4 separate regions of the Homo sapiens genome follow, and regions 1, 2 and 4 are each linked to region 3. Evidence: fine-mapped expression QTL. A gene starts in region 3. Each other region holds a variant in brackets. All regions are shown on one strand. Distances are from middle to middle.

Evidence for each region. PIP is the estimated chance that this variant, and not a neighbour inherited with it, causes the effect.
Region 1: its variant is fine-mapped to the expression of EHMT1 in whole blood (TOPMed, PIP above 0.99).
Region 2: its variant is fine-mapped to the expression of EHMT1 in whole blood (TOPMed, PIP above 0.99).
Region 4: its variant is fine-mapped to the expression of EHMT1 in whole blood (TOPMed, PIP above 0.99).

The regions. Positions count from the first base shown.
Region 1 is chr9:137,644,743-137,652,842 of GRCh38, forward strand. All of the region lies in intron 1 of EHMT1 (euchromatic histone lysine methyltransferase 1), which reads left to right. Among named protein-coding and RNA genes, the nearest start is that of EHMT1, 30 kb to the left of the region's middle. RefSeq lists an enhancer at 2,562-2,631. The variant C/T (reference allele first, on the strand shown) is at 3,184.
Region 2 is chr9:137,707,683-137,715,782 of GRCh38, forward strand. It overlaps EHMT1 (euchromatic histone lysine methyltransferase 1), which reads left to right. Exons shown (of 27, transcript NM_024757.5): 2 at 3,285-3,348. Among named protein-coding and RNA genes, the nearest start is that of EHMT1, 93 kb to the left of the region's middle. RefSeq lists an enhancer at 815-1,776 and a silencer at 7,937-7,996. The variant A/G (reference allele first, on the strand shown) is at 5,002.
Region 3 is chr9:137,614,799-137,622,898 of GRCh38, forward strand. It overlaps EHMT1 (euchromatic histone lysine methyltransferase 1), which reads left to right and starts at 4,207. Exons shown (of 27, transcript NM_024757.5): 1 at 4,207-4,251. The coding sequence starts at 4,231. ARRDC1 (arrestin domain containing 1) reads left to right here. Exons shown (of 8, transcript NM_152285.4): 7 at 1-202; 8 at 276-562. The coding sequence ends at 340. It overlaps ARRDC1-AS1 (ARRDC1 antisense RNA 1), which reads right to left and starts at 4,097. Exons shown (of 3, transcript NR_122035.1): 1 at 3,733-4,097; 2 at 3,136-3,393; 3 at 534-1,401. RefSeq lists enhancers at 3,900-3,949, 4,615-5,333 and a silencer at 3,990-4,289.
Region 4 is chr9:137,801,169-137,809,257 of GRCh38, forward strand. The region is part of intron 18 of EHMT1 (euchromatic histone lysine methyltransferase 1); the gene reads left to right. Among named protein-coding and RNA genes, the nearest start is that of MIR602, 33 kb to the right of the region's middle. RefSeq lists an enhancer at 7,903-7,982. The variant C/T (reference allele first, on the strand shown) is at 3,236.

The sequences.
Region 1 (8,100 bases), 30 kb after region 3:
CTAGTCATTGTTTCCAAAGCACCTTGTCTTTTGATGTAACATTTATTTTGTGTTTTAATTATTGGTCTTTTGGTTGTCTCAATTGCTAGATTGTAAACTCTTTGAGGTTAGGGCTCTATTTATTTATTTATTTATTATTATTTTTTTTAAGAGACAGTCTCCCTCTGTTGCCCAGGCTGGAGTGCAGTGGTGCGATCTCAGCTCACTGCAGTCTCCACCTCCCAGGTTCAAGTGATCCTCCTGCCTCAGCCTCCCAAGAAGCTGGGATTACAGGTGTGTGTCACCACGCCCGGCTAATTTTTGTATTTTTAGTAGAGACGGGGTTTCGCCATGTTGGCCAGGCTGCTCTCGAGCTCCTGGCCTCAAATGATCCGCCTGCCTCGGCCTCCCGAAGTGCTGGGATTACAGGCGTGAGCCGCCACGGCCTGCTTATTTAGCTGTATTAGTTCCCCAACCCACTGAATGTTGCCTGGCACACTTCAGGGCCTTGATAGATTGTTGTGTAACCTGATACAAAAGGAGAAAGGGCCGGAATTGGCTTGCGCCTTTATTGATTTACATATGTTTTTGTGGCCCAGGGTGAATATTTTTGGAATTAACTGACTTCTCAGTGTAGACAGGAACCATTTATCCATTCATGTGTTCCTTAATTTGTTGATTTTTGTAACAAGTACTTACTGCCTTCGTGTGCCAGCTTCTGCACTGGGAGCCACATGAGAATGCACATGGCGTCTGCCTTGTACTTACAGAAGCCCTTGTGTCCTAGTTTTGAGAAAGACAAACAATTACACACTTTGGTAATTGCTATTAAAAGAGATAAACAGGGTGTGATAGAAGCAGCGAAGAGGGGCCTCCTGTAGGTGGTTAAAGGAAGGCTGTCTGTGTTTCCATCTCTGCTGCAGACTGATACACAAGTGTCTTTTTCACTCGATTCCAAATGGAATCTTAGAGAAGGGTTGGCTTTTGTACTTGCAGCGCTGAGTGGAGAGGTGGCTGTGATCTCCAGAAACGTGGCTGCAGCCCCACGTGGGCCTCAGACCCTTGAAACATGGCCATATCGAACTGAGATGTGCTATGTGAAATGCACACTAGATTTCAGAGGCTTAGTACGATAGTTCACACTCTTTTGGTACTAATTATTTTATATTGGTTACATGTTGATAATGTTTTGGATCTATACTGAGTTAAAGGCAATTTATTAAAATTAGTTACTTCTATTTTTACTTTTTTTTTTGAGACAGAGTCTTGCTCTGTTGCCCAGGCTGGAGTGCAATGGTGTGATCTCAGCTCACTGCAGCCTCTGTCTCCCGGATTCAAGCAGTTCTCCTGCCTCAGCCTCCCGCGTAGCTGGGATGACAGGTGCCCACCACCACACCCAGCTAACTTTTTGTATTTTAAATAGGGATGGGATTTCTCCATGTTGGCCAGGCTGGTCTTGATCTCCTGGCCTCAGGTGATCCGCCTGCCTCGGCCTCCCAAAGTGTTGGGATTATAGGTGTGAGCCACTGTGCCTGGCCTATTTTTACTTTTTAAATGTAGATGCTAGAAATTTAAAATGATGTCTGTGGCATTTCCTGTCTTTCTGTGGGACAGTGGTACCTGGCCTGAGGAACATTTCAAGTTTGTGCTGCGGGCAAGAATCCTGTGACCACGGGGAGAGGACGAGGGACTCATTCTCTGGACAATGGGCTGGAAAGTAAGAGGGCTGAATGGGAGCCCCGAGGAGTGCTCCCGTTTTGTGGGAGAGAGGAGCTAGTCAGCAGGTGGAAAGCAGCCTTGGCTGCCCAACCCTGGAGCCTGGGGGAGGCCCCCGAGCGTGTGGGCTGGGGTGGTCTGGGGTGGTCTGGGGGAGGCCCACGTGCATGTGGGCTGGGGTGGCCTGGGGGAGGTGTGGCGCAGTTCTGTTGTTTTCACATCTCGCAAGGCACGTGTGTTGTCATGAGCTCTGGCCGAATTGGAGGCTGGGTTTGATCCCCTCACTGCCGCAAATCTTGTAACGTTGGATGTCTTAACTGATTTTCAGCTTTAACATTATCTCCTACTGTCTTTGAAAACACGGCTATTCATGTTCAGCTTCTTCCTTACCTTTCTGTACCTTAAATTCCAGTCCCTCAGGTTTCCTTCTGCCTGTGCTGTTTCCAGTCCCCACGTGGCTGAGCCCGCTGCAGCAGGCTTTGGTCTCCACTACTCCTCAGATGCCCTTTTGGTTATGGTCACCATTGACCTAGACATTGTCATTGGTTAGTTCTCAGCCTTCGTCTTACTGGTTCTTTCACCAGCATTTGTTATCATAATTCAAGCAAAAAAAACCTGGGATTAGTTGTCTCCGTTTGGCTTCTAGAACACTGCACTCTTCTGGTTTCCTGCCGCCTCCTTCTTCCCAGTCCTGTTTGGAGGACCCGCCTCTTAAGCCTGACTTCTAAATATTGACGTGCCCGAAGTCCCAGGCTGGTCCTCGTGTTGTGTGTGTCCTTATTCCCTGAGCTATCCAGTCCTCTGTTGACCCCAGGCTCGTGCCCCAGGCTGACCTCTTTGCTGTGGCTCCAGGTTGACTCCATGTTGACTGCATGGAAAACTGATAGGCACCTTCTGCCCAGCATGAAACGCAGCTCTCTTGGTCTGCCTCTCGCCCCGCAGCGCTAGACACCATCTGTAGAATGGCATTTCCCAGGAGACGCTGTCGGCTCTACCTTTATGACACAGCTTCTGCACTCCATGGCTGTAATGGGGTCCCAGCTTCTTCTCCCTGCTTTTTGGTGGCCCCTGTGCTCTCTGCTCAGGGGCAGCAGTCTTTGCCAGGCGTTGCTGCTCTGCACGCAGACTTCCTGTGCCTTCTGGGCTCTGCTCTTGCCTTTTTTTTTTTTTTTTTTGAGATGGAGTCTTGCTTTGTCACCCAGGCTGGAGTGCAGTGGTGCAATCTTGGCTTACTGAAACCTCCGCCTCCCAGGTTCCAGTGATTCTCCTGTCTCAGCCTTCCGAGTAGCTGGCATTACACGCGTGCGCCACCATGCCCAGCTAATTTTTTTGTATTTTTAGTAGAGACGGGGTTTCACCGTGTTGCCCAGGCTGGTCTCGAACTCCTGAGCTCAGGCAATCCACCCGCCTCGGCCTCCCAAGGTGTTGGGATTACAGACGTGAGCCACCGCGCCCGGCCGCATCTGTGGACACTTGCTCTCGCTCTCT[C/T]CTGCTTTCTTTTTCTTCAGAGCATTCGTACTCTTTGCATTGACTGTATGCTGGGAAACCACTCTGCCCTTCCTTCCCCATTTGTTTGTTGACACTTTTCTCAAGGAAGAGCTTTCTTTCCCCTTTCATATTTTTTTGGCATTACTATAGAATGGCTCCTGAGGTAATGAATTTGTACTTATTAAATGTGTTAAAATCTATTTTCACCATTTGTCCTTTTGAAACTCAAATTATTCCAATATGGCCAGTGAGAGCCCTTCAAGCAATATTCTGTTTGGGACAGCAAAATCGTAAGAGACCATATTGTATAATCTTCAGCAATTAAATCTGAACACCTAGATGAAATGAACTATACCTGGAAAACCCAAAAGAGTCAATGTTAAAACACAGACAGTGAAATTCAGTAAAGGAACTGGATATAAAATTGATACATTAAGTCAGTAGCCAGCTGGGTTGTGGTGGTTCACGCCTGTAATCCCAGTACTTTGGGAGGCTGAGGTGGGAGGACTGCTTGGGCCCAGAAGTTTCAGACCAGCCTGGGCAACATAGAGAGACTCCTTCTCTCCAAAAAAAAAAAAAAAAAATAGTTGGGCATGGTGCCTCATGCCTGTGGTCCCAGCTACTTGGGAGGCTGAGGCGGGAGTGTCATCAAGAGGTTGAGGTTGCAGTGAACTGTGATCACAACACTGCACTCTAGCCAGGGCATTCGAGCACTTGGAACAGAAGACTTGAACTCTGGAAATACATTTGTTGTTCTTGGACATCATAAACATGTTAGTTCTCCCAAGTTAATGCAAAAACTTATCCTTTATGTCTGTAAAAATGCCAACAAGGAATCATTCTTAGTCCTGCCTTCCCCTCTCAAATTCAGCTGGTTCATCAGAAGATCCCATCAGCCTCATCCTCAGGGTGCATCCCGTTTCCCTGACTTCTCTCCCTATCATGGCATCACTGTTGGGCCCAAGCCACCACAGTGCCCTGCTTGGATTATAGTAGTCACCCTTTAGCTGGTCTTCCTAGTTTTTCTGCTTATGAGCTGTACCATCTTATCCATTTGCCACCCAAAAAGCCAGAGACTGATCCTGGTTGTCGTATCGTGCTTGAGCTTCATCACTGGGGAAACTGGGCATCAGTGGGTTGAGTAGTGTCTTCCCAAATTCACATTCCCCTGTGACTTCAGAAATAGTGTTCTCCCAAATTCAGATCCACCCGTGACTTCAGAAATAGTGTTCTCCCGGCTGGGTGCAGTGGCTCATGCCTGTAATCCCAGCACTTTGTGAGGCCAAGGCGGGTGGATCATGAGGTCAGGAGTTTGAGACCAGCCTGGCCAAAGAGACCAGCCTGGTCAACATGGGGAAACCCTGTCTTTACTAAAAATATAAAAATTAGTCGGATGTGGTGACGGGTGCCTGTAATCCCAGATACTGCGGAGGCCGAGGCAGGAGAATTGCTTGAACCTGGGAGGCGGAGGTGGCAGTGAGCTGAGATCGCGCCATTGCACTCCAGCCTGGGCAACAGAGCGAGACTCCGACTCAAACAAACAAACAAACAAACAAACAAACAAAAATGTCCTCCCAAATTCAGATCCACCCATGACTTGAGAATGGGGCCTAATTTGGACGTAGGATCTTTGCAGATGTAATTAATTAAGGATCTTGAGATGAAGTCGTCGTAGATTTAGGGTGGGCCCTAGATTTAGTGACTGGTGTCCATAAGAGGACACAGACTCAGGGAAGAAGCCACAGCAGCGGAGGCAGAGGTGGGAGCCAAGTGTTGCGAACCAGGGAGTGAGAAGATGGCCTACACCACCGGAGCTGGAAGAGGCAAGGAAGTGCTCTTTTCCTGGAGCCTTCAGAGGGACCACGCCCTGCCAGCAGCCGGATTTCACACTTCTGGCCTCCAGAACTGCGAAAAGATAAAAATAAATTTAGGTTGTTTTAAGTTAACCAATTTATGATACTTTGTTAAGGTAACTGCAGGAGATTAATGCTCTGGGCAAAGTGTACACGGAGTCTCTGTGTTACTTCTTACAATTGCATGTCAAGCTACAGTGGTCTCATTGTGGGACAACCTTTGAGGAACTGTGTTTTTATGGTGGCTGTGCCATCTAACATTCCTGCCAGCAGTGAATGAGGGTTCCAGTTTTTATATCGTCGCCAACACTTGTTATTTTATTTATTTATTTTTTTTTGAGACAGGGTCTCACCCTGTCACCCAGGCTGGAGTGCAGTGGTGCAGTCACAGCTCACTGCAGCCTCAAACTCCCAGGCTCAAGTGATCCTCCCGCCTTAGCCTCCTTAATAGTTAGAACTACACAGGTGTGGGCCACAATGCCAGCTAATTTAAACATTTTTTTTAGAATGGGGTTTCACCATGTTGCCCAGGCTATTCTCAAACTCCTGGGCTCAAGCGATCTGCTCACCTTGGCCTCCCAAAGTGCTGGGATTACAGATGTGTAATTACAGGTGTACCTTGCCCAGCTGTTGTTCATTTTTAAAATTATAGCCAAACTAGGGAGTGTGAAGTAGTATCTCATTGTGGTTTTGATTTGCATGTTGCTGATGACTAATGATGTTGAACGTCTTTTCATGTTCTTATTGGCCATTTGTATGTCTTCTTTGTAGAAATGCCTGTTTATATCCTTTGCCCATTTTAAATTGGGTTGTCTTTTTATTAATGAGTTACAGATGTTCTTTATATATTATAGAGGGAAGTCCCTTATCAGATATAGGACCCCCCGCTTTTTTTTTTTTTTTTTTTTGAGACAGTTGCACTCTGTTGCCTATGTTGGAGTGCAGTGGGGTGATCACAACTCACTGCAACCTTGACCTCCTGGACCCAAGTGATCCTCCCAATTCAGCCCCCCAAGTAGCCAGGGCCACAGGCACATGTCACCACACCTGGCTAATTTTTGTTTTTTAATTTTTTGTGCAGACTGTGTTGATCAGGCTGGTTGAACTCCTGGGCTCAAGCAATCTTCCCGCTGCCATATGAATATGAATATGTGCACACCCGTGGTTCCAGCTACTCAGGAGGCTGAGGTGGGAGGATCACGAGCCTGGGAGTTCGAGGCTGCGGTGAGCTGTGATTGCACCACTGCACTCCAGCCTGGGTAGGTGACAGAGTGAGACCCTATCTCAAACAAAACAAAACAAAACCACCAGTGTTGACGATGATATGGAAAAACTGGAACCCTCCCAAAGTGCCGGGATTACAGGTGTGAGCCACTGCACCCAGGCAGATGTAGGACTTGTAAATATTTTTTCCCATTTTGTGGGTTGTGTTTTCACTTTCTTGATAGTATCCTTTGAAGCACAAACATTTTTAATTTTGATAAAGTCTAATTTATCCCTTTGTTCTTTGTTGCTTGTGCCTTTTGTGTCCTATTTTAGAAACACTTTTGAAATTCAAGATTATGAAGATTTGTGCCTGTTTTCTTCTATGAGTTTTACAGTTTTAGCTCTTTTAATTAGATCTTTGATCTATTTTGAATTATAGTCACAGGCCACATAATGATGTCTCTGTCAGTGATGGACAACATATAAGATGATGGTCCAGTAAGATTATAATGGAGCTGGCCAGGTGCGGTGGCTCACGCTTGTAATCCCATCGCTGTGGGAGGGAGGCCGAGGCAGGCGGATCACTTGAGGTCAGGAATTCAAGACCAGCCTGGCTAACATGGTGAAACTCTGACTCTACCAAAAATAAAAATACAAAAAATTAGCTGGGCCTGTTGGCACACACTTATAATCCCAGCTACTTGGGAGGCTGAGGCAGGAGAAATGCTTGAACCTGGGAAGTGGAAGTTGCAGTGAGCCGAGATTGTGTCACTGCACTCCAGCCTGAGTGACAGCGAGACGCCGTCTCAAGAAAAGAAAAAAAAAGATTGTAGTGGAGCCGAAAAGTTCCTATTGCCCAGGACATGCTAAAGCTCTAGCAATAGGCATTATGTGTCCTGCTCAGGTAAACAAACCTACTCTGCTATCAGTTGTCTAAAAGTCTAGCACATACAGTTATGTGCAGTACCTAATGCTTGATAATGATAATAAACTCCTATGTTACTGGTGTATGTAGTTACTATTCTGTACTATACTTTTTTACCATTATTGTAGAGTGTACTCCTACTTATTTAAAAAAAAGTTAACTGTAAAACAGTCTCAGGCAGGCCCTTCAGGAGGAGTCTAGAAGACACTGTTACCATAGGAGATGACGGCTCCATGCATGTTAGTGCCTCTGAAGATCTTCTAGGGGACAAGATGTGGAGGTGGGAGACGGTGATACGGATGATCCTGACTCTGTGTGGGCCTTGGCTAATGTGTGTGTTTGTGTTTTAGTTAATTTTTTTTTTTGTAGAGATGAGGTCTTGCTATGTTGCCCAAGCCAGGCTGAAGTCATCCTCCTGCCTTGGCCTCCCAAAGTGCTGGGATTACAGGCGTGAGCCACAATGCCCGGCCAGTGTGTCTTAGTTTTATTTTTTTTGAGACGGAGTCTCACTCTGTCTCCCAGGCTGGAGTGCAGTGGTGCGATCTTGGCTCACTGCAACCTCTGCCTCCTTGGTTGGAGCAATTCTCCTGCCTCAGCTCCTGAGTAGCTGGGATTACAGGTGTGCACCACCACGCCCAGCTAGTTTTTTTATTTTTAGTAGAGGTGGGGTTTTGCCATGTTAGCTAGGCTGGTCTTGAACTCCTGACCTCAGGTGATCCACTCACCTTGGCCTCCCAGAGTGTTGGGATTACAGGCGTGAGCCACCGCGCCTGGCTAGTGTATCTTAGTTTTTAACAAAAAAGTGTAAGAAGTTAAACTTTTTTTTTTTTTTTGAGATGGAGTTTTGCTGTTGTTGCCCAGGCTGGAGTGCAGTGGTGCAATCTCGGCTCACCGCAACCTCCGCCTCCCAGGTTCAAGCGATTTTCCTGCCTC
Region 2 (8,100 bases), 93 kb after region 3:
TTTTCAAAAGATTACAAAACTTAATTTCGTGGGTAGGATTTGTGGCTGGTGGTGGTGATGAGGACTGTGAGATGGAGTGGGGTTTGGCGGGTGCCTCCAGGAGGGGACAGCATGTGAGGGGCACAGCTGGTGCCCAAAAATGCCTGTAGACCCCGGCAGCCTCACAAGGTCTGCCCTGCCATGCTCCACCCCGGCTCATCTCAGGCCAGGAGACCTTGTCGGCAGAGCTGTGCCGTGGCAGGCAGGGTGTCTTTGGTGTGCCTCAAGGCCCTGCTCTTAAAAGTATTGAGGACCCCAGAGGGCTCTTGTTTATTGGGTTGTATCTAATGATAGTTACTGTAAAAGAAATGAAAACTGAAAAGTTAAAAATCACATTTTTAAAAAATAATAAAAGTAAACATGTAACATTTTATTTACATGTTAGGGAATACAGCAGTTTCTGTGAAAAGTACTTTTTCTGAATGAAAAAAACTCAGTTGAATGGCATTGTTTTCCATGTTGGTCCATCTCTGTCATGTCTGGCTAATCGAAGAGTCAGCTGGATTTGCAGATTGGCTTCTGCACCCAGCCTGAGGTGATACTGTCTGAAGAAAATCTGGTCTCCCATAGACATGTGGTTGGCAAGGGGGAAGTATTTTGATATCTTTTCAGATAATTGCAGCTATTCTGCTTTGATATGACACGAAAACTCAACAAGGTGAAACTGTGCCAATGACCTTCTTCCTCTGTGACATTAAAGCCCATCTTGGATGCATCTTTGTCCCATGCGTGATTTTGAATATTAGGCACTGGGCATTTGGGGAGTGTCAGCTCACCTTGTTAGGAAGATCTTCCCCATGTTGACACATTTTATTATATGGTATCAAAAATCATAGTCACTAATGATACCGCTCATGTAATAAGAAAAGTCATAAATATGGAGAAACTTTCAAGCTCATGGGGACAGATACACATTTACATGTGTTTCGAAAATTCAAAAGGTAGAGTTTTAACATTGGCAACAAATACTACTGGTTGTTTTCTTTGAGGCTCACTCTGTTCTGTGGAAATGTCTGCCAGATGTCCAGGTCTGACTGAGTGGCATGTCCAGGCCTGAGTGGCATGTCCAGGTCTGAGTGGCATGTCCAGGCCTGAGTGGTATGTTCAGGTCTGAGTGGCATACATTTTGCCAGTTGTTCTTTTAAGTGAAGATGCTCTGTGAGTGAGGAAAGCTTCGGGTTCCACGCAGCCACTGTGCCTGGCCTGCTGCCTGCCCCCTTCCTCTGATGTGGAACGCTGGAGAGCTGTGCTCACAGGCCATCATCTCACTGCCTCATCCAGGGCACTCTCAGGCGAGCCCCCCAAGTGCCTGCTGGTCAAGAGTTCAGTTGCTGGAGTACACTTCGGTGTCCTGACCTGGTCGATGCAAAGGGGCTGACACCACCGCTTGGGCACCGTCTGTGCAAATATCAGCACAGTGAAAAAGGCAATTGAGGTCCTAGTATTACCATGAAAATAGTTTTGACCTCCTGGACTCCTGGAAGGATTGCAGGGACCCCGGAGAGCTCCTGTTGGGGGGTAGGTGTGAAGGGTGCAGGCTGAGCTGGCTGGCGTACAGCTGTGATGGACCAGGAAAGGTAGCGTGCTCTGCATGTTCGAGGGCTGGCCATGAGCAGCTGGGCTGCTGGCCCTGGCTTGGCAGTGGGAGATCAGGGGGTGGGAGGTGGAAACCTGGGCCCCCCTGCCTTACCGTGGTGGGGTGGGCTGTGCACAGTTGCTAAGACCAGCTCCTGGGGAGGGTGATGCAGTTAGGTCCGGTGTTACCAAGTCAGCCCAGAAGGCAGCGAGACCATATGGATGTGAGCCCTGGAAAGCAGTAGGCACATCCGGGCTCAGGTAGGGGCTGGCCTGGCGTCTGCTTTGTGGGGAGGAGGGGTTCTGTTGAGAGGCCCCATTGTTGACATGTTTTCTCATCCAGACGCTGGACACCCGGGTTTTTGCAGCCTCTTCTTACCTGTTGATAGTCAATTAAAGATGGAATCAGTGCGTGGCTGGCCTCCTGCAGCTGTCTGACTGGCTGCTCCTAGTGACCTCGGGCAAGTCTGTGCCTCTCCTCTTCTGGTTGTGGACTCGGAGCACCAAGTGTGCCTCCCTCAGTTGTTCCTATTTTATCACTCTGACCCGGAGGCTTCCTGCCCACTTCCAGCTTCCAGTGGCCTCACCAGAGGGCTTTCTCCAGTATCACATCACCAGGTGTGGGTGTCAGCCTGACAGCTCCCACTTGCAGTCTGGCATCTCCAACTGCCCAGAGTGGTCAGCAGCCCTCTTCCCCGGCCCCCAGCTGTGGGTGGGGCATTTGCAGACTCCCTGCTGCCTCCTTATGGACTCCATGGTCCTGCTGCTGCGTCGGGAGAGGCCTGGCTAGGAGTGTTTTATGTGTTTATGTTCACTTCTCCAACCAGACTCTAAGCTTCTTGAAGGCAAGGATTTTTGTGTAAAAAAAAAAAAAAAAATTCTGTCCAAGTGCCACCCAAGTGCAGTGGCTCACACCTCTAATCCCAGCACTTTGGGAGGCTGAGGCGGGCGGATCACTTGAGGCCAGGAGTTTGAGACCAGCCTGGCCAACATGGCGAAACCCCCATCTCTACTGAAAACACAAAAAGCATCTGGGTGTGGTGGTGTGCACCTGTAGTCCCAGCTACTCAGGTGGGTGAGGCCTGAGAATCGCTTGAACTGTGGAAGCAGAGGTTGCAGTGAGCCGAGATCGCGCCACTGTACTCCAGCCTGGGCGAGAGAGTGAACTCTGTCTCAACAAAAAAATTGTAAGAGGCCTTGTATAATACATACCTCTATAGATGCTTAATCTCAAAGATTTAGTGATTTAAGTTCCTTATTGAATTTTCTTGATTTATCTATTTCTATAATTTTTTGTAGGAGGTTGGACATTTGAAATATATGAATTATTGTCAGCAGTAGAATGCATTTTGAAATAAATTGTAACACTCCTGTAACAGAGCCCAAAGATTTCAGATATCTAATTATATAAATGATACATGAATGCGTTCTTATTGTTAAGAAACTGTCTTCAAAAATAGAAATACAGGAGAAGTTTCCTTGGACTGTGTTCTGAATGCCAGTTCTTCTGCTGGAGGCGACTGTAACCAGCTGGCAGGAGTAAATCTGACTGTCCAGCAGCTCATGGTGAATGTTGTAACTACGATTTTTTGACTTTTTCCAAATGATGTCCATTTGGAAAAGCGGCCTCCCACTGAACCCGGCTGACGGCTGTTGTTTCTCTCTAACAGGCAGTTCCGGCGAGGGGGGAGCCTCAGCAGGATTGCTGTGTGAAAACCGAGCTGCTGGGAGAAGGTGAGGGCGGTGTGCACCGAGGGACAGGAGCAGCGCCTCCCTCCAGACTAGAAAACCTGCTGCTCTTCCTCTCTTATTAGTCCCCGTCTTCTGACTTTCTTTGCTTCACCTAGGTTTATGGTATAGTTTCTAATCTATCCCATTCCTAAATAGCACAGTTGCACAGACAAACACAAAAGCTCTGCCAGAGAAGGAACACATTTGTCAAAGTATGAAAAGCAAAAATCCTGTATATCCTTGTCTTAAAGTACACCCAGAAAATTAAAAGTGAGTGGCCACACAAATGTTTATAGCAGCATTGTCACGTCGCCGAAAACCGGAGACACTCCGGTGTCCTCAGTTGATAAGGAACTGGATAAACAGATCGTGGTACATCCACACAGTGGGACAGCGGTCAGCAGCCCAGAAGAGCACACAGCATGACTGACGCCGCGCCATGGATGAAGCTTTTGTACGGTTTGTTAAGTGAAGGAGGCCAGACCCAAAGGGCCACAAGCTGCATGACTCCAATTTTATGGCAGACACTTGGAGAACAGCAGTGGTTACCAGGAGGTGGAGGGAGTGGTGTGGAAGCAAGTGTCTGCAGAGAGGCAGGGTGAGGGGAGTTGGGGCGAGGGGAGTCGGCGGGGCTGCACCCCTCTGTAAGGCGTGGCGCACACATAGGGTTCGGATGTTCTTGGAGAGCCTGCACCACCAAGAGCGCCCCCAGGAAATGAGGGCAGGTGGCGCCAGACGAGCTGTGCTGTGCTCCACAGTGAAGGGAGAGTGGTGTTCTGGCTGGACCCATAAGGGTGGCGGCCGTGGGAGCAGCTCAGACACTGGACTTGCCTAAGGCTCTCCCAGCTGGAGCCTGCTCCTCTCCAGACAGCGCGCAAGGCCTGGCTCCTCATGGACTGTGGGCTGTGGCCCCTGCCGTGTTCTCCTTTCACCCTAGATGGCCTCGCTGTGCCTGTGGGTTCTCGTCCACCCACTGGCTGTGCACTGTGGTGACCGCTGCCCGCCTCTGCCGCTACCCCTAGCCGGCCCTCCAGGGTTGCCCCCACCTCCTGCGCCATCCACCTCCTGCAGCCTGACTGGGTGTTTTCTTCCTGTACTTTGGCCCCTTCCTGTTGCCGTCCTTTCTGTGTCTTTGAACTGTTTCTTCTGTTGGCTCCAGTGCCCTCCGGCTCTTCCCCCTTCTCTCCCTGGTCACCCCTCCTTTGACCTTCCTAGTGGAACTTGTTTCCTACGTGACACCAGATGCCACAAGCCCCAGGTTATTCCATTACGCTTTAGGCTTTGCCTGTGCCCTGTTCCCTTACACACTGCCGCTGAGCCACGGCCTCTCCACCCTGGGGGAACTGCTGGACCCCCACGGTGGCTGCCCCATCTTGCTTTCCCTGCAGCAGTTGCAGAGGGCTCCAGGTTCTCCACGTCCTCGCCACCATTTCTTAGTGTCTGTGGCTGTCCTGGCGGGTGGGAAGTGGCATCTCATTGTGGTTTTGGTTTGCATTTTCCTGACGGCCAGTGATGTTGAGCATCATTTCGTGTGCTTACTGGCCATCTTTAGAGCTTCTTTGGAGAAATATCTCTTCTCCTGTGATTTCAAATTGGATTGATTTTTATTGTTGAGTTTTCAGTGTTCTTTATATAAGCAGAAGTCCCTTATCAGCC[A/G]TGGGATTTGCAAATATTTTCTTCCGGTCTGTGGCTTGTCTTTCCCCTTTCTTGATGGTGTCCTTTGAAGTATAAATGTTTTCAATTTTGATGAAGTCCGACTTACCTGTTTTTTTCCTCCTTTTAGTTGCTGGTGCTTTTGGTCTAAAACCTAAGAACTTACCATTACTTAATAGAAGGTCACAAACATTTACATTTATTTTTTCTTGGAGTTTTATAGTTTTATCTCTTTTATTTAGGTTTTCGATCAATTTTGAGTTAATTTTTGTATATGGTTTGAAGTAGGGGTCCCAGTTTATTATTTTGCAAGTTGATAATCAGTTGTCCCAGCAACATTTATGAAAAAGACCTTTCTTCCCTCATTGAATTGTTCTTGCACCCTCGTTGAAAATCAGTTGGCTTTAAATGTGAGGGTTTATTGTAAGATTTTCTTTTCTTTAGACAGGGTCTCCCTCTGTAATCCAGGCTGGAGTGTGATCATGGCTTACTCTAGCCTCCATCTCCCTGGGCTCAGGCAATCCTACCACCTCAGCCTCCCAAGTAGCTGGGACCACAGGTGTGAGCCACCACACCATGCTAATTTTTTTTTTTTTTTTTTTTTTTTGAGATGGAGTCTTGCTCTGTCACCCGGGCTGGAGTGCAGTGGCACGATCTCGGCTCACTGCAAGCTCCGCTTCCCGGGTTCACGCCATTCTTCTGCCTCAGCCTCACGAGTAGCTGGGAATACAGGCACCTGCCACCATGCCCGGCTAATTTTTTTTGTATTTTTAGTAGAGACGGGGTTTCACCATCTTAGCCAGGATGGTCTCCATCTCCTGACCTCATGATCCACCCGCCTTGGCCTCCCAAAGTGCTGGGATTACAGGCGTGAACCACTGTGCCTGGCCCCTAAGTATTATATTTTTTGATGCTATTTTAAATAGAATTGTTTTAAAAATTCTTTTTCATTTTGATCATTGATACTGTATAGAAATACAAGTGATTGGCTGGGCACACTGGCTCATGCCTGTAATCCCAGCACTTTGGGAGGCCAAGGTGGGCAGATCACTTGAGGTCAGGAGTTCAAGAGCAGCCTGGCCAACGTGGTGAAACCCCATCTCTACTAAAAATACAAAAATTAGCGGGATGTGGTGGCTCGCACCTATAATCCCAGCTACTCATGAGGCTGAGGCAGGAGAATCACTTGAACCCGGGAGGCAGAGCTTGCAGTGGGCAGAGATCATGCCATTGCACTCCAGCCTGGGTGACACAGCGAGACTCCATCTCAAAAAATAAAAAAAGTTAAAAAAAATTGATTTTTGCATATTTATCTTATATCCTATAACCTTGCTAAACTCGTTTATTAGTTCTAATGATTTAAACTTCCTTGGGAATTTCTGCATAAAAGCTTGTGTCATCTTTAGGGCTCATTTGGTTTCTTCCATTCCAATCTGCATTCTTTTTATTTCTGTTTCTTCCTTATGGCCCTACTTCGAATCTCTAGTACAGGGTTGAATAGAAGTGGCAAGACTGGACATCCTTGTCTGGTTTCTGATCTTAGGGAGAGAGCTTCCCGGGTTTCACCTTTAAGTGTGATGTTAGCTGTAGTTTTTCATAGATGCCCTATGTTAGATTGAGGAAGTTTTCTTTTCTTAGCAAACCATTTGCTAAGTGTTTTGACCATGAAGGGGTGTTCATTTTTTCCTGTCTAATGAGATGCTTGTGTGGTTTTGTCCTTTATTTTGTTCTATTGATATTTGGCATATTAATTCATTTTTAGCTATTAAGCCAACCTTGCATTTCTGGGGTTAAATTCCACTTGTTCATGGTTTAATCCTCCTCACCAATTTTGTTTTGTTGTTGGGGGGTGCGGAGCTGGATTCAGTTTGCTCATTTTTTTTTTTTTTTTTTTTTTTAATGAGACCTGTCACCCAGGCTGGAGTGCAGTGGTGCAATCATAGCTCACTGAAGCCTTGACCTCCTGGGCTCAAGCGACCCTCCTGCCACAGCCTCCTGAGTATCTGGGACTACAAGTGTGCACCTCCATGCCCGGCTAATTTTTTAATTTTTGGTACAGAGTCTCACTATGTTGCCCAGGTGGGTCGTGAACTCCTGGGTTCAAGCGATCATGCCTCCTTGGCCTCCCAAAGTGCTGGGATTACAGGCATGAGCCACCACACCCAGCTTATAGATTCAATTTGAGGGGACTTGACAGCTTTGTAATGTCATCCATTTAGGAGCATGAAATGCCTTCTATTTAACTTTTTTTTCAACACATTGGCTTTGAGTAATCTTGGCAAATTTCCTAATACCCTTTGTAGTTTTCCCTACTTCTGTGAATGATACTTTTTTTTCTTACATTTTCTAGGTAATGTTGATATAAATAAATGTCTTTGATTTTGTAACATGATTTCAAATTCAGCAGTCTGGTTGTACTCTTGTGTTTTAGTTGCTAATTGAGTCTGTTTTTAAGTAAATGATTGTGTCAGATGCAGGTGGGAACAGTTTGACCCTCACATTGTTCTTTCCCTTTGGTGTCACCTGCACTGCCTTTTTATGTCAGACACTGGTAGTGTTAATAGATCTTATATGCAATTAATTTAGCATTTACATATACATCTGCTGCAGGATTTGGTATGAGGAAGTTTCCACTTACTCTGTTTTGTTAAGGGTTTTTAAAACATAGTTGTTTATTCAGAACACACACATTAGATGCCAGGCCTCGTTCATGTGCTCAGGGTACACTGGTAAACAGACAGGGCATTTGCGCTCATAGGACTTAACGTCCTCGGGTGGAAGGACAGACGGCCAGCATGACAGATGATCAGGTCTGTTGTGCTCGAGGTGATAAGCACCAGGAAGAACAGAGCCAGGAAGGAGGGCACTGGGCGGTGGCATCTCAGGCTTGACTGAGCTCCGTGTGCACCTAGCGATGCCATCGCAGGCTTCCTGCCTCAGCCTGTCCTGAGCTGAGTGTGTGTGTCAATCTCGTGATGTAAAATAGTGTCTCCTTGACTGCCCTGGATATGATTTCCTGGGGTTGTCATCGGAGAGTGAGCCTCTGTAGGGAGTGGAGAGCAGACCACGGATGTGCTCCAAGTATAAGCCCTTTTTCTGACC
Region 3 (8,100 bases):
CTGGCCACCTTGAGTTCTGTGCCTGGTGCGCCGGAGCCCTGCCCTCAGGATGGCAGCCCTGCCTCACACCCGCTGCACCCTCCCTTGTGCATTTCAACAGGTGCCACTGTCCCCTACTTTGCAGAGGGCTCCGGGGGGCCAGTGCCCACTACCAGCACCTTGATTCTTCCTCCAGAGTACAGTTCTTGGGGCTACCCCTATGGTGAGTCGACAGCCAGGGCTTGGCAGGGAGGGGACGCCAAGAGCCCCACGCAGACCCTGCTTTCTTCCCGCAGAGGCCCCACCGTCTTATGAGCAGAGCTGCGGCGGCGTGGAACCCAGCCTGACCCCTGAGAGCTGACCCCGTGCTGCCTTCTCCAGGCAGGCCTGGCCTCTGCCCTGGGACTGGGGCGCCCAGGGCCTCGTGCCTTCTCTCTTGGCCTAGCCTGGCCCACTCAGGACCTGCCCAGCCTCTGCCAGCTCCTCTGGCATCCGCCCTCTTCTCCCTGGGGCTGGGGTGGGGGTGGCAGGGAGCTGGGACCTGGAGAGACAACTCCTGTAAATAAAACACTTTATTTGTAGAGCTGGGCCTCACCGGCCTCGCCTTGGGCACCCTCCAGCCTCTGGCAGGGCCTGACCCTGACCCCATCCTGGGCTCTGCTCATGCCAGGGCAGACCCTGCTCCTCAGGTGCCCCCTACTACCCTGGGGGCGCGCTCAGGCTACCATGCCTGGGCGGAGCCGCGGGGCTGGCTCCCTTTAACAGAGGACGGGGGCTGGCGCTGGGCCTTCCAGAGCCGCCTAAGGACACGTCCTTGGAGCCCGGCTCATGAAATGGGGCCTCACGCAACCTTGGTGTTTGGTTAAATTTGTGCCTTGGCTCCTGTTGCGTTTAGGCACCCAGGTTCCCAAGCGGTGTGGTGTGGACCTCCCCTGCTGAGAAACCCGCTGGCGCGTGGAGGGGCTTGCCCAGGTCCCTCCGACAGGAGACCCTGCTCCCTGGGCCTTGGCCCCTGCTAGCACCACTGCCAGGCCTGGCTCTGAGGGACGCTGCTTCTCCCCTGCCCACGTCTCCAAGGCCTGAAAGGCAGGGTTCTGTGGAACAGCATTTCTCAAAGGGGCATCCTGCAGACGTTCCAGCCCCAGGGGAGGCCCCGTGATGCTGGCTGGCCTGCCTGGAGGGTGCTTCCAGAAACAACGGAGATGGTGGTGAAGAAGGCTCTGGGTTCAAATTCCAGTTCTCCTTTAGGGCGAAGGGGTGACTGTGGCTAGGTTTGTCAGTTACCTTATCTATAAAATGCACAGGACCAGGCCGGGCACGGTGGCTCCCTCCTGTAATCCCAGTACTTTGGGAGGCTGAGGCAGGTGGATTGCTTGAGGTCAGGAGTTCCAGATCAGCCTGGGCAACATAGTGAAACTCCATCTGTACAAAAAAAAAAAAAAAAAAAAAATAGCTGGGCATCATGGCACATGCTTGTAATCCCAATTACTCAGGAGGCTGAGGCAGGAGAATCGCTTGAACCCAGGTGGCAGAGGTTACAGTGATCTGAGATTGTGCCACTGTACTCCGGCCTGGGTGACAGAGCAAGACTGCCTCAAAAAATAAAAAAACAAAACCCCACAAAAAACTCGTGGGACTGTAGGGTACAGCCCCCCACCCTCATAGCATGACAGTTTATTTCTTGAACAGTCCAGAGGGGGCAGATCCTGGCCTTGTGGCAGAGTTGTCATTCCTACATAGTGGTTCCCATCCCTGGCTCCCAGATGGCTGTTGACAGCTTTCACCACTGCCCAGCCTAATGGTGGGACTTTTGAGGGACAGACTGGGAAATGGATTGTCACTTTTTGTCTCTGACCTGTCCCCTTCCTGTTGGAAATGTGGTCTTTAGCCAGGCAGTCCTGTACTTGGCTAAAATTTTACTAATTGTGGGACAGGCAGCATGAATATTGGAGAACAGCAGAAAGTGTACCACAGGTGGGGTCATCTGTGAAGCGCCTCCTGGAAGCAGTGCAGTATATGGTTGAAAGGAAGGCCTCCTGGGCTGAATCCCATCACTGCCTCTCACCACTCCCTTGCTTCAGTTCAGTCACTTATAAAATGTGGGTAAGAACAGTGCCTGCCTCTCAGGACTGACCTGAAGTCTGCAGTGTTAGCATGTCACGTGCTGAGAGCAGCATCTTGACATAAGTGCTGAGGGGCACACAAGGGTAGCAGCTGATGGAAAAATGGAGTGAAAAAGCTGCCTGCAGCTGCTTCCCACACCTTCACTTAGGGTGGATGTTTGCTTGGTGAAGGATTTTTCTTCACATTCTAACTCCCTTTATTCAGTCAACAATTTTTTTGTTGTTGTTGTTGAGACAGAGTCTTGCTCTGTTGCCCAGGCTGGAGTGCAGTGGCACAATCTCAGCTCATTGCAAGCTCTGCCTCCCGGGTTCATGCCATTCTCCTGCCTCAGCCTCCCGAGTAGCTGGGACTACAGGCGCCCAGCACCACTCCCGGCTATTTTTTGTATTTTTAGTAGAGATGGGGTTTCACCATGTTAGCCAGGCTGGTCTCCATCTCCTGACCTCATGATCTGCCCACCTCGGCCTCCCAAAGTGCTGGGATTACAGGCGTGAGCCACCGCACCCGGCCCAGTCAACAAATATTTTGTCTCCTGTACACCAGGTATTGTTCTAGGCACCATGGACTTACATTCTAGTAGGGAGACAATATTCCAAATCAGGATGTGGGAGAGTCACATGACACACACTGTGATGGAGCCAAGTAAGTCAACGAAGACAGGTATGGGGGGGCAGTATCATTTTAACTAGGGAGGAGAGGGAAGGCTTCCCTTAAGAGGTGATATTTCAACTCAAGGATGGTAAAGAGGGAAGCCACAAAGACACTCGAAATAAAGGTTTCAGGGAAGGGACAGACAGCAGGGGTGGCGGAGAGGTGGGTGCGGGGCAGGAGGGCCATGAAGGCGCTCGTGTCTCCTGCGAGGGCTCAGGGTGCTCGGCCTGTCATAAATGGACTTAGGCTTTGACAGAGCAGTTTAGCTGCCCTAAAGAAACCTGGGAAGGTTCCCTTGGCACTTGGGATTGTCCGTTTCCTTTTCTGTCTATGTGCGCTGTCTATGCTGGACTTGAGATAATTCTCCGGAGTCCGACTCACCAGGAGACTCGGGTGTCACCCAGATTGACCTTCAAGGCTCATTTCTTGTCAGTCCAGTACCCGTCCCCTCGGTTCACACGACCATCCAGAAACCTCAAATTCAGTCCATGCTTCTTGTTTTGGGTCTCGGGGCTGGGATAAGGCGGGCTGACCACCGCGGGGCATGTAGGTAGTTTCCGTGGTGCTGGGGGCGCTCTCCAGGGAAGGCTACTTGGTCTGCAGAAAAGGCCTTGACTTGTGCATACCTGGGCAGCGGGCCTATGAGTGGCAGCGAGAGCGGGGTAACCAGAGAGGGCACACCCCCCAACCGGAGCGCCCCCCAGGTTGGCATCTCCACAACTGTAGAACCTCCCCCATCAGGGCAACCCTCCCGATTGGGACACCGCCCCCAGCCAGACACATCCTCCTAGCAGAACACCCATGCTTAGCCGGAGCCGCTCCCCCGCCAGACACCTCCCCACCGGGAAACCCTCCCCAGTGGGACACCCCAGCCAGTCCAGGTATTCCCGCCGTTAGGGACACCCCCTCCAGCCGGAGCATACCCTCGGCAGGGGCATTCCTCCCAACCGAGGGAACCCCGCCGCAACGGGAACCTGCCTGAACCAGAGCACCCTCCCGCGCCGGGGACACCCCACAGGCGGCTCCCGCGCCAGGCCGCGGCCCAGGGAGTCAGCCTTCCGCGCAAGCCGGCGAAATCAAAGTGCGTCCGGGGTTAGAGGTCAGAGGTCGGAGCCGCGGGTCTTTCTCCTTCTTCGGCCAGCCCACCAAAACGTCAATTTAGAATGAGACATGTGTTGAAAATGGGACGGCTACTCCCCATCCACTACTACGACTCTGGCGGGCGGGTTCTCCAGCTCCAGGTCTCCTACCCCGCGGGCGCGCGTTCCGGTTCCGGCCGCCGCAGGCCCGGCGCCTGGGGCGCCGCACGCCTGGTTCCAGTGCGCAGGCGCCGCACCGGTCGAGCTCCAACGCGCAGGCGCGGGCGCAGGCGCAGGCGCAGACGTAGGCGATCGGCCCCGCCCCGACTCTGGGCCGCGAGGCGCGGGCGGGGCGATGGCGCGCGGGAGGGGCGGGGCCACGCTGCGGGCCCGGGCCATGGCCGCCGCCGATGCCGAGGTGAGCAGCGGGGCCGGCGGGGGGCGGCGCGGGGGCGGCGGGCAGCGGCGGAGGCGGCGCGGGGGCGAAGAACCGGGCGGGGCGGCGGCAGGCGGCCGGCGGGCGGGCGGGGCCCCGGGTCCCCCCGCCGCCGCCGCCGCCGCTGCCGCCGCCTCAGGCCGAGGCCGGGCCGAGGCCGCCGGGCGTCCGGCCCGCGCTCCCGCCGGGCGCGCTTTGTGCGCGGCGCGGGCCGGGCGGCGGCTGGGGGAGCGGGCGGGGGCGCAGGTGAGGGAGGCGACCGCGTACCTGTGCCCGCGCCCCCCACGGACCCCGTGCCGCCGCCGCCGCCCGCAAGCCGGATCTGCGGGGAGGGCCTCGGCCAGGGTGCCGGGGAGGTGCGGAGGACAAAAGGAAAAGTAGCGGGGCCGGCCAACTTTGGAGCGCCGGCCGAGGCGAGGCTGTCCCTCCTCTCGGAGCTCTTCCTTCGCTTCGTTGACCTTTCACTTTGTTCTGAGTAGGATGGCACCATCTTTAACGAAAAGTTGGCCAGTCCCGGCGTGTTTCTCCCCAGACAATGCTGCTCCAGCCCTGCTGGCTGTCAGAAGCAGGAAAGCACGCTCGGTGGGAAGCTTGCGGACTCAAGTTTATTTCCAAACCAGCAGCTTTAAAGGGCTCTCGATGTAAAAAGTTCACATTCTTTTGTTAATGGTCTCGGCCTTCCCCGTGCTCATTCTCAAGGATAGTTTGTTTCCTTGCTTAGGAAAGGAAGCAGCGTAGAGATTAAAGTCTTGCGAGTGGACCACTGGCGTCCCTCTGAAGGAAAAGCAAGCAGGAGGTGGTGTGTCCGTGGAGATGCAGAAATAGTGTGGTCCTAGGGCTGAGATAAGGGACCGGTTTGGAGAAAACTGTCAGCGTAGAAGTATTTCTTTGAAATTAACTGTCTAGTAACAGTTGAGACTTCTAAAGCTTAGAAAGTTAAGGTGTAGTAAGAAGCCGTACAGTATCCTGGTGCATAGACTTAACACTGTATTTTAACTCAGGTAATGTATGGCCTTTTTGTTTATTTTTTTCCTGCATTTTTGGGGGGTGTTGAAATAAGTAAACTGGGAAGGTGCAGGGGAATTCTTAAATTCAATGCAAGGAGTTTTTGCTGAGTATCTGCAGCATTCAAGGAATTAATATTAGTCACTGAGAACAAAAAGCGAAATTAGAAAATTTCAAGTCACTTCTAGGCTTGTAGGGGAGAAGACGTGTAGTGATGAATTCTATCATTTATGAAGTACCCACTGGATCCCACACACTGTGCAAGACCTTTAGATCAGGCGCCTCCCTCGGTTTTCTTCACCCTGTGCAGCAGGTGCTGTTATTTCCTTTTTTAAATTATTATTTATTATTATTATTTTTTGAGACAGGATCTCCCTTTGTCACTCAGGCTGGAATGCAGAGGCATGATCACTGCTCACTGCAGCTTCGACCACCCAGGCTCAAAGGAGTCTCCCACCTCGGGTGCTGCCACACCTGGCCAATTTTTTTGTATTTTTTTGGTAGAGACCGGGGTTTCACCATGTTGCCCAGGCTGGTCTTGAACTTTTGGACTCCAGCGATCTGCCTGCCTCCGCCTCCCTAAGTGCTAGGATTACAGACATGAGCCATTGTGCCCGTCCTGTTGTTTCCTGTTTAGCTGAGGAGGAAGGGTTAGATAACTTGGCCAGTCGGTTGTAGGACCAGCACTAGTACAGTGTTGGGCACGTAGTAGGTGTTTAATACATGACCGATGAGCAAATGGCTCCAGATGTCTCTGGTTCCATAGGCAGCCTTGAATAGGGCTTTACACACCTGATGAGAATGACAGCCTGTGTTGACTGAGCCCTGACTTGTGTCCAACCCTGCCATAGTGCCAGTGCCTTGCATGAATTCAATAATTTGAGCCTAGCAGCAACCTTAAGAGGTAGGTACTGTTACCTCCCCGTTTATAAATGAGAAGACAGGCGCAGTGAGGCCCAAGATTGAAGAGCTTGTGGCCAAGAAGATGGAGTTGCAGGTGGTTTGGCCATAGAGCTGATGCTTGCTAAATGTGTTATATCTGTGATGGTCATTTTAGGTTAATAAAAGCTCTGTTTTTAGATTGATAATTCTAAGGGTTTATCATCAAGGTGTATGAGAAGGTGAGGGAGCCCCTGTGTGTAGCGCAGCAACTCTGGCCTTCTGGACAGTAGGTAGGCATGTGATCACTGTTGTCACTAAACCTGGGAAATGATTCCTGGGTCAGGGTTCATTAATTGCCAAATGATTAAAGTAATAAAGCTGACACTGGAAACTTATCTAACTTCATTTCTTTTCCTTGATTTACAAAGATAGTCAATACATTTTCCTACCAAAAAGAACTGGCCAGCCGTGGTGGCTCATGCCTGTAATCCTAGCAGTTTAGGAAGCCGAGGTGGGCGGATCACTTGAGGTCAGGAGTTCGAGACCAGTCTGGCCAACATGGTTGAAACCCTGTCTCTACTGAAAATACAAAAATTATCTGGGCATAGTGGTGTGTGCCTGTAATTGCAGCCTGGGCAACGGAGTGAGAGACTGTCTCAGGAAAAAAAAAAGAAAAAAAACTACTGAGGTAGTTGAATATATCCTCCATTCCCCATTTGTGGATTAGTTAGTAAATGGGGCATCTTAGGGTTTAAATATGTCCAGGGTCACTGAGGATCAGATCCTAGGGTTCCTTTGACTCAAGGCTTTTGTCTCAGCAAAACGTCACCTTCCAGCAGGAAGGCTTTCTCAGGCAAGTAGCAGGGTGGCTACTATGTATCGCTTCTTTATTTTTTCTTTTTTAAAATAATGCAGGCACGTGCGCATAATTTAAAAAATCAGTGCTAAAACCCTTAAAAAAAAAAGCTGTTCTCATCTCCTGTCTTTCTTTTTTTTTTCTTTTTATTTTTTTCTTTTATTATTATTATACTTTAAGTTTTAGGGTACATGTGCACAACGTGCAGGTTTGTTACATATGTATACATGTGCCATGTTGGTGTGCTGCACCCATTAACTCGTCATTTAGCATTAGGTATATCTCCTAATGCTATCCCTCCCCCCTCCCCCCTTTTTTTTCTTTTTGAGAATGAGTCTTGATCTATTGCCCAGGCTGGAGTGCAGTGGCCCGATCTTGGCTCACTGCAGCCTCCGCCTCCCGGATTCAAGTGATTCTTGTGCCTCAGCTTTCCTGGTAGCTGGGATTACAGGCGCCTGCCACCACACCTGGCTAATTTTTGTGTTTTCAGTAGAGATGGGGGTTTCACCATGTTGGCCAGGCTTGTCTCGAACTCCTGACCTCAAGTGATCTATCTGCCTTGGCCTCCTAAAGTGCTAGGATTACAGGCGTGAGCCACCGCCCCCGGCCGATCATCTTCTGTCTTTCTAGAGAAGAAGCAGCCCACTTGCATCTCTTGAGCATTTACTTCATGTTTCTAAATATATGTTTGTATTGTCATGTCTTTATTCACCAACTTTAGGGGTCGACTATGGACTTCCATTAATGGTGAATTAGTGTAAGATTTAGATTAGAGAAGATTTTTGTTCTCTTATGTTCATCCTGCCCCAATCAGAATGTATGTTCTTGGCCAGGGCCAGCAGCTCATGCCTGGGAGGCCGAGATGAGAGGATCCCCTGAGCCCAGGAGTTTGAGACTAGCCTGGGCAACAGAGTGAGACCTTGTCTCTACTAGAAGTAAAAAAGTTAGCTGGGTGTGGTGGTGGTATGTGCCTGTAGTCCCAGCTACTTGAGGGGCTGAGGTGGGAGGATCGCTTGATCCCAGGAGGCCAAGGCTGCAGTGAGCTGTGATTGTGCCACTGCCCTGCAGCCTGGGTGACAGAGCAAAAT
Region 4 (8,089 bases), 190 kb after region 3:
GGTCCCAGCAGAGGCCACCCTCTAGGGATCTGCGGGTTCAGAGGGCGCTGCACTGCCCTGGTCTCCCTCCTGCTGCCTCACGGGGCTGTGCCTGGGCCTGAGGCTACTGACCCTGGTGCGGGTGCCACAGCACCTCTGGCTCTCCCTTTGTTTTTGTTTTTGTTTCTTTTATGGATGGAGTCTCGCTCTGTCGCCCAGGCTAGAGTGCAGTGGCGTAATCTTGGCTCACTGCAACCTCTGCCTCCTGGGTTCAAGTGATTCTCATGCCTCCGCCTCCCCAGTAGCTGGGATTACAGGTGTGTGCCACCGTGTCTGGCTAATTTTTGTATTTTTTATTTGTTTGTTTCTGAGACAGAGTCTCGCTCTGTCACCCAGGCTGGAGTGCAGTGGTGTGATCTCAGCTCACTGCAACCTCCACCTCCCGGGTTTAAGTGATTCTCCTGCCTCAGCCTCTGGAGTAGTTGGGATTATAGGCGCCCACGACCACACCTGGCTAATTTTTGTATTTTTAGTAGAGACGGGGTTTTACCGTGTTGGCCAGACTGGTCTTGAACCCCGACCTCAGGTGATCTGCCCGCCTCAGCCTTCCATAGAGCTGGGATTACAGGTGTGAGCCACTGCGCCCGGCCAATTTTTGTAGTTTTAGTAGAGACAGGGTTTAGCCATGTTGGCCAGGCTGGTCTTGAACTCCTGACCTCAGGTGATCTGCCCACCTCATCCTCCCAAAGGATTACAGGCATGAGCCACCACGCCTGGCCCCTGGCTCTCTCTTTGAAACAAAGGAAAGAAAAGTGAACATTATCATACCACGGTTTTCTAGGATGTGATTTAAGATGCTTCAGTGACAATTAGTTTTGTAAGGCCCATTTGTTTGCTCAGAAAATAGAGTTTGGAGCTGAGATAGGAGGACTCCCCAGCCTGAGAGTGGCAGCAGGTGACTGATTAACTCAAAAGGGTGTTCACTAGAAGATCTTCAGGGACCCACAAAACCAGTGGGCCTGCCAGGGGGCTGGGTGTGGCACTGGGCACGACAGCAAGGGGCGAGGGGGTACTCTGGTCACCTCCCAAGACGGGCATAGACACACTGCAGCCCACAGAGCTGTGTCCACCGTCACAGAGGGTTCAGAAGCCAGAAATGGGAGGTGCTGCAGCCCTCAGAGGTGTGTCCACCTTCACAGAGGGTTCCAGAGGCCAGAAATGGGAGGTGCTGTAGCCCACAGAGCTGTGTCTGCCTTCACAGAGGGTTCCAGAGGCCAGAAATGGGAAGTCCAGCCACAAATAAACCCACTAAATTGATAATAAGAAAGAAGATTTGACACAGAAAAAGAAGATTTCTAAAAGCACACTATTAAATCTCCAATGTGCTGAAGTCTGGTGTCTGAGGAGGGAGGGCTGACACTTCCTCTCAGAGCTTGAGAACGGCGTGGGCACGGGCCCTTGCCATTCATTGTTGGCACGGGGAGGTCTGCATTTGGAACCCCTCGCTGCATGTAAGCAGACCCCACCTCCCACCTAGAAACAGGGACCACTGGCTGTGGGCACCCGCTGCCTCCCTGCAGGCACGCAGGCCTCTCTGGAGTGACTGGTCCTGAGCTGCAGTGCCTCCTCCGTGGGCTGCAGGGCTTCCATGACTGTATCCAGGGGGTTTCTACCTCATTCCACCGGAGTTCTTTCCCACTGCGGGTTAGGATGACGGCACCATGAAGAGAGGAGCCCTGAGCCGGCAGAAGGAAGAGAAGAGGGAAGCAGAGGAGCCCTGAGCTGGTGGAAGGCTGTGGCGGGTACCTTGGAGGAAGAGAGGAGGGAAGCAAAGGCAGAGAACAAGGCAGAGGCCACCCCCAGGTGGGGCCACCTCACCCACCGCCCCCGGAGACTGCGTGGCGGGGAAGGCGGCCCTAGTGTGGCTGGTCGGCCTGCATGCCTGGGCAGTTTGCAGCCTGTCCAGGTGTCAGAGCTGTTAGCTCTCTGATGCTGGTGGCTGTTCCCCCAGAATGGAAGCATTGATTAAATTTCAAGTTTGTTATTTATACAATGAAACACTTCATTAATTTAACCACTTTATTGCTGTATAATAGGTAGGCTGCATATATTCAAAGTACACACTTGGGTGAATTTTCACCCAGAAGCCATTGTTGCTGTCGGAAGAGTGAGCCCAGTCCTCCCTCATGCCCTGATGATCTTCAGGTGATCCTCCGCGCTTCACAGCCATGCCCAGCCCACCCCTGCCACCCATTGCTGGGCTTTCTGTTGTCTGCGTGTCTCGGTTTTATAGAAAAGGGCTCTCACCATGGGCAGCTTTCCCTCGCGTCCTTAAGCCGAGATCCCCATTTTCGTTGCCTGAAGTGCCCATTGTGTGAATGTGTCTGTTTACCCTTCACCTATCAGTGGACATTAGGTTGTTTCTGATTTTTGGTGGTTACTAAGAGAGATGCTGTGAATACTCATGCCTTCATTTTTCTTGATTAAACCCCTGGGAGTAGAATGGTTAGAACATATGACAGGTGTCTAGGCTTAACATTTTCAGAGACTGCCAGTAGCCAGGCATGGTGACACACACCTGTGGTCCCAGGTACTCGGGAGGCTAAGGTGGGAAGATCGCTTGAGCCCAGGAGGTCAAGGCTGCAGTAAGCTGAGATCGCACCACTGCACCCCAGCCTGTCTCAAAAATTAAAAAAAAAAAAAAAAACCTGCCAAACTGCTTTCCAAGTGATTGTACCATCTCTAGTGTATGAGAGTGCATTCATCCGTTCTCACACTGCTATCAGGGTTCTACCTAAGACTGTAATTTATAAACAAAAGAGGTTTAATTGACTCACCCTTCAGCGTGGCTGGGGGGTCCTCGGGAAACTTAACAATCATGGCAGAAGGTGAAGGAGAAGCAAAGCACGTCTTACATGGTGGCAGGAGAGATTGAGGAGCATTGTACCACACTTTAAAACCAGCTCTTGTGAGAACTCACTCACATGAGAACAGCATGGGAGACCCACCCCCATAATCCAATCAGGTCCCTCCCTTGACACATGGGGATTACAATTCAAGACAAGATTTGGGTGGGGACACAGAGCCAACCCATATCAGACAGTCCTGGTTCCTCCGCATCCTTCCCAACACTTAGCATGGTCAGTCTTTAACTTTTATCCATTTTAATAGGTGTGTAGTGATATCTTGTGGTTTTAGTTTTCAGTTCATTTCATTTCTCTAATGACAGTTGATGTTAAGCATCTTTTTATGGGCT[C/T]ATTTACGATCCATATATCTTTTTTAATGAAGTGTCTGTTCAAATATTTTTCTTGCTTATTATTGGGTATTCTGGAGTTTTAAGAGTTCATGTTCTGGATATAAGTCCTTTATCAGATATATGGTTTACAGATCTGTCTTTGGAAGTGCAGAATTTTAAAAGTTTTTATAAAGTTTGGTTTATCAACGTTTTTCTTTATTTTTAACTGGATCCTGTTTTTGGCGTTCTGTTTAAGAAATCACTGCCTAATCTGAGAACCCAAAGATATTCTCCCACATTTTCTTATACGAGTTTTATGGTTTGGGGGTTTACATTTAGGTCTGTGTTTTATTATAGTTGACTTTTGTATGTGGTGTGAGGTATGGATTGAACTTTTTTTTTTTGGCTTATGGATGCCTAGTTCAGTGCCATTTGTTGAGAAAACCATTCTTTCTACATAGAATTGACTCTGTACCATTGCCAAAAGCCAGTTGTCTGCATTTGTGAGTCAGTTACCCATGTGTTATTCCACATGTGTCAGTCATTTGCATGTCTGTCAGTCATCCATGTATGAGTCCGTCCATGTGTGTCAGTCATCTGCATGTGTGTCCACATGTGTCAGTTGTCCATGTGTGAGTCAGTCATCTGCATGTCTGTCAGTCGTCCACATGTGTCAGTCCACATGTCTGTCAGTCGTCCACATGTGAGAGTCTGCATGTGTGAGTCAGTCATCTGCATGTGTGTGTCTCTCATCCGCATGTGTGAGTCCATCATCTGCATGTGTCATTCGTCCACGTGTGAGTCGTCCACGTGTGAGTCATCTGCATGTCTGTCAGTCGTCCATGTGTCAGTCCACATGTGTGTCAGTTGTCTACATGTAAGGGTCAGTCATCTGCATGTATGAGTCAGTCATCTGCATGTCTGTGAGTCTGTCGTCCACATGTATGAGTTGGTCATCCATGTCAGTTGTCTGCGTATGTATCAGTCATCCGCATGTGTGAGCCAGTCGTCCACATGTCAGAGTCAGTTGTCCACATGTGTGTAAAGTCAGTCGTCCAGATGTGTGTGTCAGCTCCAGGGCCCTCTCTTTTGATGCATTGATCTGCATATCTGCCTTTAGGCAAGTACTGTCCTTTCTTGACTGATGTAGCTTTACAGTAGGTCTTGCAAAATCATTTTTCTCCTCCCAAACTTGATACTGCTATTCTCCTATATTTTACACATATATATGTTCTGAACACCATAATAGCCATGTAGTTATTCTGTTTAAACAGTCAGTGGTCTTTTTTTTTTTTTTTAAGATGGAGTCTTGCTCCGTCGCCCAGGCTGGAATGCAGTGGCATGATCTTGGCTCACTGTAACCTCCGCCTCCCGGGTTCGAGCTATTCTCATGCCTCAGCCTCCTGAGTAGCTGGGATTACAGGCACGAGCCACCACGCCTGGCTAATTTTTGTATTTTTAGTAGAGACGGGGTTTCACCATCTTGGTCAGGCTGGTCTCAAACTCCTGACCTCGTGATCCACTCACCTTGGCCTCCCATAGTGCTGGGATTACAGGTGTGAGCGACTGTGCCCGGCCTGGTTTTTTCTTTTTTTTTTTGGAGACAGTCTCACCCTGTCACCCAGGCTGGAGTGCAGTGGTGCGATAGCTCACTGCAACCTCCACCTCCCTGGTTCAAGCGATTCTCCTGCCTCAGCCTCCCAAGTAGCTGGGATTACAGGCACATGGCACCACGCCTGGCTAATTTTTGTATTTTTATTAGGGATGGGGGTTTCACCATGTTGGCTAGGCTGGTTTCAAACTCCCAACCTCAGGTGATCTGCCCGCTTTGGCCTCCCACAGTGCTGGGATTGCAGAAATGAGCCACCACGCCCAGCCGAGTGGTCTGTTTGAAAGACTGCAGAAGAGCTCTGCAGTTGCTCCTGCCATCCCCATCCCTGTCCCTGCCACGCTTCTCCACCTTGGTGGGCTCATGCTCCTGATGTTGCTTCCCTTCCGCTGGCCTCACTCCCTTTACCTTTTCTGTGGTGTTGGTCTGCTTGTGATGAGCTCTTGCAGCTTTTTTTTTTTGAAATGGAGTTTTGCTCTTTCACCCAGGCTGGAGTGCAGTGGTGCTATCTTGGCTCACTGCAACCGCCTTCTTCCAGGTTTCAGGCGATTCTCCTGCCTCAGCCTCCTGAGTACCTGGGATTATAGGCGCTGGCCACCACGCCCGGGAAATTTTTGTGTTTTTAGTAGAGATGGGTTTCACCATGTTGGCCAGGCTGGTCTCAAACTCCTGACCTCATGATCCGCCCGCCTCGGACTCCCAAAGTGCTGGGATTACAGGCGTAAGCCCCTGTGCCCAGCCCTCTTACAGCTCTTTAATGCCTGGAAAGTCCTTATTTTGCTTTCATCTTTGAAAGATATTCTTAGAATTCTGGATGCGTAGTTATTTCTTCCAATGCTTTAAATGGCGGTTTCCCTGGGTCCTCACCTGCAGTGTTTGCAGTGAGAAATCCAGTGCCACCACACAGTTATTTCTCTGTGTATAATGTGTCTTTTTTATATGGCTGCTTTTAAAATGTTTTTTCTGTATCTCTTGGTTTTAGCAATTGGATTTTCCTCTAAGCCTTAGTTTGTCTGTAAAGCAATTTGATTACTGAAGTGCTTTGGTGTTATTTTGTGTGTGTGCACGTAGGGTTCATTGAGCTTCTTGGATCTGTGGATTTAGGGTTTTTGACAAATTTGGAAATTTTTCAGTCATTATTTCTTCAAATAATGTTTTCTGCCCACCACGCTTTCCAGTATTCCAGCTGTGTATGTAGGAGTTCTCAGAGTGGTTCCACAGCTCACTGGTGCTCTTTTCAATTTTTAAATTATTATTTTTTCCCTCTGTGTTTCAGTTGAGCAGGTTTTTGTTGGTTTGTCTTCTAGTCCACTCATCTTTTCTTCTGCACGTGATGCTGTTGAGCTCATCCGGTCTGTGTGCTTACATTCTAGGCATTGTCGTTTTCAGCTCTAAAAGTTCTGTTGGAGTCTTTCAAACATTTCCTAACATGTTTCTACTTAACTTTCGAACCTATAGAATACAGTTATACCAATGGCTTTATTTACTTATTTATTTATTTATTTATTTATTTATTTATTTATTTGTTTATTTTAAGGCAGAGTTTCACTCTTTTGCCCAGGCTGGAGTGCAGTGGTGCAATCTTGGCCCATTGTAACCTCCGCCTCCCAGGTTCAAGCCATTCTCCTGCCTCAGCCTCCCGAGTAACTGGAATTACAGGCGCGCACGACCACGCCTGGCTAAGTTTTGTATTTTTAGTAGAGGCGGGGTTTCACCACGTTGCCCAGGCTGGTCTCGAACTCCTGACCTCAAGTGATTCCCCCGCCAAGGTCTCCCAAAGTGCTGGGATTACAAGTGTGAGCCACCTCACCCAGCCCACCAATGGCTTTAATGACCTTGTTTGCTAATCCAGCATCTGTGTCAAAGCCGGGCTTTTTGATTGACTGGGTTTTTCTCCCCATTGTGGGTCATGTTTCCTGTTCCTTTGCACATCTGGTAACCTGTAGCCGATGCCAGGATGTGGGTGGGTTTTGCAAAACTTGTATGGTGCTAAGGACTCTTCTTCGTGTGAATGTTCTTGAACTTTGTTCTGGAACTCAGTCACTTGAAAGCAGTCAGATCATGTTGGATTTTGCTTTTCAGGTTTGTTAGGTGGGTCTGGAGCCACCGAGGCAGGTCCGTCCATTGTCCTCCAGCCCACAGCCTGTAGATGGAGAGTGTGGCCTGCCTGGTTGTGGGGAAAGGCCCCGGCTTTGAGTGCACATTCTCAACAGGCTTGTGGCCGCTAGTGTCCTGCCGGATGACCCACTTCCTGCCGGAAGTGCACAGATCTCTGGAACCTCTCTTGGAGCTCTGTTTTCTGTCTGAGCATCCGGGGGCCCTGCCTGCCTACCCCCTGCGCCATGGTTGGAGCTCTGGTGGCAGTGAGCTGGGCAGCCACGGGCTCCCTCACAGACTCGCCTCTCAGGGGCACGGTCCTTCCCTGCCTGGTGTCTGGTGTCTTGACAACCATGGTCATAGGTTTTGACTGTTTTGTTTTACTCTTCTGGTTCTTTTAGGTGGGAAGGTAAACCTGTTCTGGTCTGTATCACCCCATTGTTTCAGGAGTGCGGTTGCTCACCAGTTGTAGGCCAGGCTTGTCGTAACTCAGCCAACTTCAGAAAGGCTGGGCGTTTGAACAGTCCCAGAGTGGAAGGATCTTATGTGAACTGGAAGCTCTCAAAAATGTAATTCTGGGCGGGGGGTGGGGGGGGCGCGTGGTGGCAGATCACTTGAGGTCAGGAGTTTGAGACCAGCCTGGGCAACATGGTGAAACCCCGACTCTACTAAAAATACAAAATGATGAGCTGGGCCTGGTAGCATGAGCCTGTTATCCCAGCTACTGGGGAGGCTAAGGCACGAGAATCGCTTGAACCCCAGAGGCAGAGGTTGCAGTGAACCAAGATCGTGCCAACTGCATTCCAGCCTGGGTGACGGAGTGAGACTCCGCCTCTAAAAAAAAATAAAAAATGTAATTCTGGTTATAAAATCATAAATCATTCTGATAAAGGAAAAAGAAAAGAGGCCCCTAAGCAAGCAGCCTTTTGTTCAAGGAGCTCTGAAATGTATGGAGGAGGGAAGCCAGAAACAAAGAGCAGAGGGGTGGAGGAGCCCAAGAGCAGCAGAGGCTCTTCAGGAAATCCACTGAGGCCTACACACGGAGTTCGCTTTTAGTTTTCTCTTTTAGAAGTCAAGGGAACAGTGAAGCCCATGCCGGGGGCTGGCCGTTTGTGGATGAAGATGCTGGAGACCAGGCCACTCGGTTTCTGTTCTGCTTTTTTCTTCGC